2 separate regions of the Homo sapiens genome follow, and region 2 is linked to region 1. Evidence: fine-mapped expression QTL. A gene starts in region 1. The other region holds a variant in brackets. All regions are shown on one strand. Distances are between the middles of the regions.

What was found. PIP is the estimated chance that this variant, and not a neighbour inherited with it, causes the effect.
Region 2: its variant is fine-mapped to the expression of NDUFC1 in esophagus muscle (GTEx, PIP above 0.99). The same link has a PIP of 0.9 or more in breast, sigmoid colon and tibial nerve.

The regions. Positions count from the first base shown.
Region 1 is chr4:139,301,312-139,304,227 of GRCh38, reverse strand. NDUFC1 (NADH:ubiquinone oxidoreductase subunit C1) reads left to right here and starts at 1,751. Exons shown (of 6, transcript NM_001184989.2): 1 at 1,751-1,812. NAA15 (N-alpha-acetyltransferase 15, NatA auxiliary subunit) reads right to left here and starts at 2,723. Exons shown (of 20, transcript NM_057175.5): 1 at 2,397-2,723. The coding sequence starts at 2,450. RefSeq lists an enhancer at 2,673-2,732.
Region 2 is chr4:139,492,556-139,495,471 of GRCh38, reverse strand. It overlaps a transcript of SETD7 not described here. Among named protein-coding and RNA genes, the nearest start is that of RAB33B, 40 kb to the right of the region's middle. The variant C/G (reference allele first, on the strand shown) is at 1,469.

The DNA.
Region 1 (2,916 bases):
GCTAACACTTGGCCGGGTGCGGTGGCTGACGCCTGTAATAGCAGCACTTCGGAAGGCCGAGGCGGGCGGATCACTAGGTCAGGAGATTGAGACCATCCTGGCTAACATGGTGAAACCCCGTCTCTACTAAAAAATACAAAAAATTAGCCAGGCGTGGTGGCGGGCACCTGTAGTCCCAGCTACTTGGGAGGCTAAGGCAGGAGAATGGCGTCAACCCAGGAGGCGGAGCTTGCAGTGAGCCGAGATCGCGCCACTGCATTCCAGCCTGGGCGACAGAGCGAGACTCCGTCTCAAACAAACAAACAAAAAAAAGTGCTAACACTTGAGAAAATCTCCATATGAACCAGATATTAGACAATATTAGAGAATGATTGTTATAAGTATACAAGACGATGTCCTTATTCTTAGGAGATGCTTGCTTAAGTATTTAGAGATGAAGTTTTTTGTTTTTGTTTTGAGACAGTCTTCCTCTGTTGCCAAGGCTGGAACTGCAACCTCCACCTCCCGGGTTCAAGCGATTCTTGTGCCTCAGCCACCCTAGTAGCTGGGACTACAGGCGAACACCACCATGCCTGACTAATTTTTGTATTTTCAGTAGAGACAGGATTTCACTACGTTGGCCAGCCTGGTCTCGAACTCCTGACCTCAAGTGATCCATCTGCCTCAGCCTCCCAAAGTGCTGGGATTACAGGCATGAGACACCGTGCCCAGCCTAGAGATAAATTTTACATCTACAACTTACTTTTATACAAATGTATATATACATATACATAGGGAGAGAGAAAGCATATATGGCAAATAAATATAAGTAAAGGTTTATGAGTGTTCCTTGTTCTCTCAACTTTTCAGTTTCATTTTTTTCAAAATAAAGAATTGTGAAAAAGAGATTAAAGATAAATTGCTATTCTAAACTTATGTTACAGTTCTACCTGCACACCAATTAGTCTTTTTAAGGGTTTAAAAGTAACTTTTTTCCTAAAACTATTTTACAGCTCCACCTACACTCTTAGTCTTAAAACAAAACAAAATTCCAGTAAGAATTTCAAGGTAACAGTTTTGCGACACTGCATGTGACTTTCTAATGTTTTTCAAAATGAATTCACTAAATCTGTAGGGCATATGGACACTTTTGTAAAATCAAAGTTAGTTCAAATGGATGATTATTCATTTCTAGAAAAACTGAATCCCCAGAGTTGTTCTACTTTTCAAACAGGTGAAATAAATTATAACTGCGGGGGAAAAGGCTAACACTTTCACACACACATCCCAAATTTTAAAAGTCTTAAATTTGGCAAATACAGTTAATTCTATCATAAGGAAACGTTTGCGTGAAAGGGGGAACCCACATACTAAATGCCAAACAAAAAATGTGCTACAATGTGTTAATTATAGCTCCAAGGCTACAGGACATATTTTACAATGTAAACAGTCCCTGCAAACATCAATGCATTTATGGTTTAAAAAAATACAAACTGCACACATTTGAACCGTAGGGAATAAGTCTGAGCTAGCGTCAACAAAATCCATCTCAAAAGTTCTTATATTCTCATTTCTCTGGTAAGTTTTTGCATGTGTTAATATACTTCAGTGTATAAGAAAAGTCTAGGTCTGCAACGTTTCAACTAAAGACTCAACTTTTTACTTCCTACCGAACCGCCCCCTCGCAATGGGCCCCACCTCCCGAGAAGAGTGACGGGGTGGGGCTGTTTCCCGCTCGGAAACTAAGAAATAAATGCCTCATCCCTACTCCAGAAACGAGAACAACGGAGGCAGAGGAGCTGAAGACTCCAGTATGCAACTGACTACAAGGAGGTAGTCGTTTGAAAAGCTTTCTTTCCTTCTCTGAACTCCTTCTTTCCCTCCTCTCAGGTCATTGGGTGACCCCGGGCCGGGCGGAGACAGGTGAATCCCAAGAGAGGAGGAAGAGGGAGGGACAGATGATGGAGGGAGAACCGCGTTTAGGCAATGAATGAGCCTGCTGCATCCGCACCACCTGTTCCTTCCAAGGGTGCCACCCCGACCTGCCAGCAGGGTTCCCACACCAACCGGGCCGCGACTCCTGCCGGTGTCGCCCACTTGCCCGCCAAAGGCCGGGCCTCTTCTCCCCCAGATCGGGGAGAATGAGAACCGGCAGTCTAGAAGCCGGGAGGTCGGGGCCTAGTCCGGAACCAGGGCCTCAAGCGTGGGGATGGAATGAAGAAGCCTGTGGTCCCTGGCGCGCGGGCCATAGTAGGAACCACAGAGAGGGAGCAAAGCAATGCATTCGGCCTGACGAGAGCTATGAAGGCGGGGTCCCGGGCGGGAGTGGCTCAGTGCCCGCCGGGCCGAGGTTAGGGGTGACAGGCCCGGTTACCGGCTAAATCCTCCCCACCGCTTGCCCGGAGCCTCACACTTACCAAGATCCGCTTGAAGAGCGCATTCTCCTTGGGCGGGAGGCTCACGGCCGGCATCGTTCCGGCTGCTCCCGCTGCTCCCGCCACCACCCGGCTCGGTCAGTCAGTTTGTCCGACCGCCGCCGCTGCCGTTCCGTAGCTGCTTCAGCCTTGAATATCTCGATCCGCCGCCACCACCAGGCCTCGGGTGTCGCCGCGTTGCCCTACCCGGACACCTCCTTTTTCCTCGTTGTCTTTTTTCCTTTCTCACTTAACGCTGCCGCCGCCTCCCCCACTACGGGTCTCCGTCGGCGGTTCACGTGGTAACTGAACAGACCGACAGAGGCAGCCAAAATGGCGGACGCGGAGGGTTTTCCCACCCGGGTCACGCTTCCTAACACGCAGGCGCGGTGACCTCCTTTCCCCACCTCCTCTGGGTTTCGGAGCTTGCCGGGAAACCTGGAGGCTGGCCTGCCTGTGGAGGCCGGGAGGGTCGGGGCAGGCCCCGCCCATCATTTCAGTGCGTGGTACCCTCGAAGCGCCC
Region 2 (2,916 bases), 190 kb before region 1:
TCAATTAAGCCTCTTTCCTTTATAAATTACCCAGCCTCCGGTAGTATCTTTAAGGCAGTGTGGAAATGGACTAACACACTGCCCCTGGTTCTGATTTCCTACTCACTAAGCAATTCTCTGATTGCTGAGGAAAATTTTCCAAGGTAATGAATGTGTCCTGATATAACCTCTAAAAGAAGACAGCCAGGTGAATAAACACCCCATCAGCTTGTGGTTGCCTTCCTTGAATTTCTGGAGAAACAATAGCTGTAATTTATTGAATGACTTACTCTGCAGCAAGCACTGAACTGGGTACTTTTCATTAGTTAATTCATTTAATTTTCACAGTAGAAATGATATTACTTGGAGATATTTCCATCCAAACTGGTTAAAGGAAAAAGTACAAAAGAATGAATGAAAGAGATTGTGCATTAATCTGGAAAAATATGTCCATTTTAAATACTTACTGCTTAAAATCTATAATGTCATATTCTGGCTATAGTGCCATTACATATAATGTTTACATATTTATCTCACAAGATTAAACACTGTTTTTCTAAGTAGAATTTCATGTGCATTCCCCAGCTCATTAAAAAGAATTCTAGTTTCCCATTTAAGATAATATTGTAGTAAATCCGCTTAACCAAGCTCTTTATAAACTCATATTGTCATAATCCATGAAAGTGAGTGAACCGCGAGGATGCTGCTGTTAACCACTCCATGCTGTAGAATCAGAATTCCTGAATTCCATAGGCATAAGGCATGTGCCTGTCCAACATCCAGTATCAATTTATGTATGAGATATTAATAATACTGAACTTCTGTGTCTATGTTGATATCATCTCTAGCCTTACAAACACAGAATTCTAATACTTTTCCCATACTCCAGTGGAATGTCTTTCATATCCCCTGGGGTACATGCTCTACACTTTATCATTCTGCTTGGCAGAACAATATTTCCTAGTGTAACAAAAGACACTGTTTATTGATTTATTTTTCCTCCCATATTTTAGAAGGCTCCTGTCCATTCTAAAGTTAGGTTCAATAACCTAGCATCCTCCCAGCGCCTGTTTAGTCATAATAATTGCTCAGGTATGCTGGATATTGAAGACAGAGTTGAAAGAATGGTTCACCAGTAGACACAGCAGGACATGTGTGACCAGGATCAGTTCATTGTGGGGCCTAGAATAATGAAAGGTAGTGAGAGAGTACATTCAATCTGAGATGAAAAGATCTGGACTCAAGCCCTTGCTCTATTACCTATGATCTTTGTGCTCTTTAACCATCCTCCCCCTTTATAGATTAATCAAATAAGACTTGCCTCGTCTATTTCACAGGCTTGTTTCAGATACAGTGCAGATGACCCTAGTGGCAGATACTGTGGATTGCCTACCCAAAAGACATTCACAAGCCATTTTCCCCTTGTCTTCCTGTGCCTAAAATAATTACATTCCAAGGATCTCTTGCAGCTAAGGCTGGCCACCAGATT[C/G]AGTTTTGGCCAACGAGAGGTCAGGCAAGGGAGGCAGGCAGTCACTGAGTGAGCCTCCAGAAAAGTTATGTACAAGAAGTAGAGTCCATTGGCATGCTGCCTTCATTGCTTACCCTCCAACCCACTTTTCACAAAGTAATCAGAGTAATGTAAAACAGTAAAGCAGCCAGCCGCAGTGGCTTACACCTGTAATTTCAGCACTCTGGGAGGCCAAGGTGGGTGGATCACTTGAGCCCAGGAGTTCGAGACCAGCCTGGGAAACATAGCAAAACCCCATCTCTACAAAAAATACAAAAAGTAGCCAGGCCTGGTGGTGCATGCCTGTAGTCCCAGCTACTCGAGAGGCTGAGGTGAGAGGATCACTTAAGCACAGGAAGGCAAGGCTGCAGTGAGCTGGGATTGTGCCACTGCACTCCAGCCTTAGGCAACAGAGTGAGACCCTGTCTCAAAAAAAAAAAAAAAATAGTAAAGTACATCTTGCCATCACCCTGCTGAAACACTTCAATGGCTTTCCATTGCAGCTAGAATAAAATCCAAGCTATTTACAATGGACTGGCTCCTGCTCCCTCTCCAGTATCATTCAGTCCGTTCTCCCCCACCCACTGTACTCCAGCCAGACCTTCTGTTCCTCAAACTTGCCAAGCGTTTTCCTGGATCCAGGCCTTTATACCTGCTGATTACTCTGCCTGTTTGCCTCTAGCTCTTTGCATAGCTTCTCTCTGTCACCCTTCAGCCCTTGACTCACACCGCCCTCATCAGAGGTGCCCTCCTTGACCGTCATGTCTCAGAAGGCCTCCTCAACTTATCTGCTGTCTTACCACCCAAATTGTTTCATTGTTATCCCTAATCCACAGTTATTTTGTGTATTTGTTATTCCTCTGTCTTCTAACACTGTAACATAAGCATCACTGGGGAACAGCCTTTGCCTGTCTTGTTTATTGCTACATCCTTAGTCCCTTACACAGTGCCTGAAACATAAGGGATGCTTGTTTAATATTTATAAAATAAAAGAATGAACTTTCCCTATGAATCTCCATCTCCTAATTTATTCCTCTTCATCAAAGGAAATGCAAGGCTAAACATGAGTGCATAATGGGAATAACAAGTGTTAACACAGGATTTGTGTGATGAGTGGATGACTTCCAGGAAAAAGCAATCAGAGGAGCCAATTTGGTGGTAAAAAAGGAAAGAAAGAAAAAGGAAGGAAGGAAAGGAAGGAAGGAAGGAAGAAAGAAAAAGAAAGAAAGAGAGAAAGAGAAAGAAAGAGGGAGGGAGGGAAGGGGGCAATTGTGATTGGATGAGAGCAGAAAGTAGCGGAAAATGCTGTGTCTGCATTGTCAACCAATAGCAATTTGGATTGCCACAGCTACAGACACCTCAGGAGGTCTTGGAAGAAGGCATGGGGAGGAGAAGGCAGCCTAATCAAGGTGACATACCTGCTTCCTGCA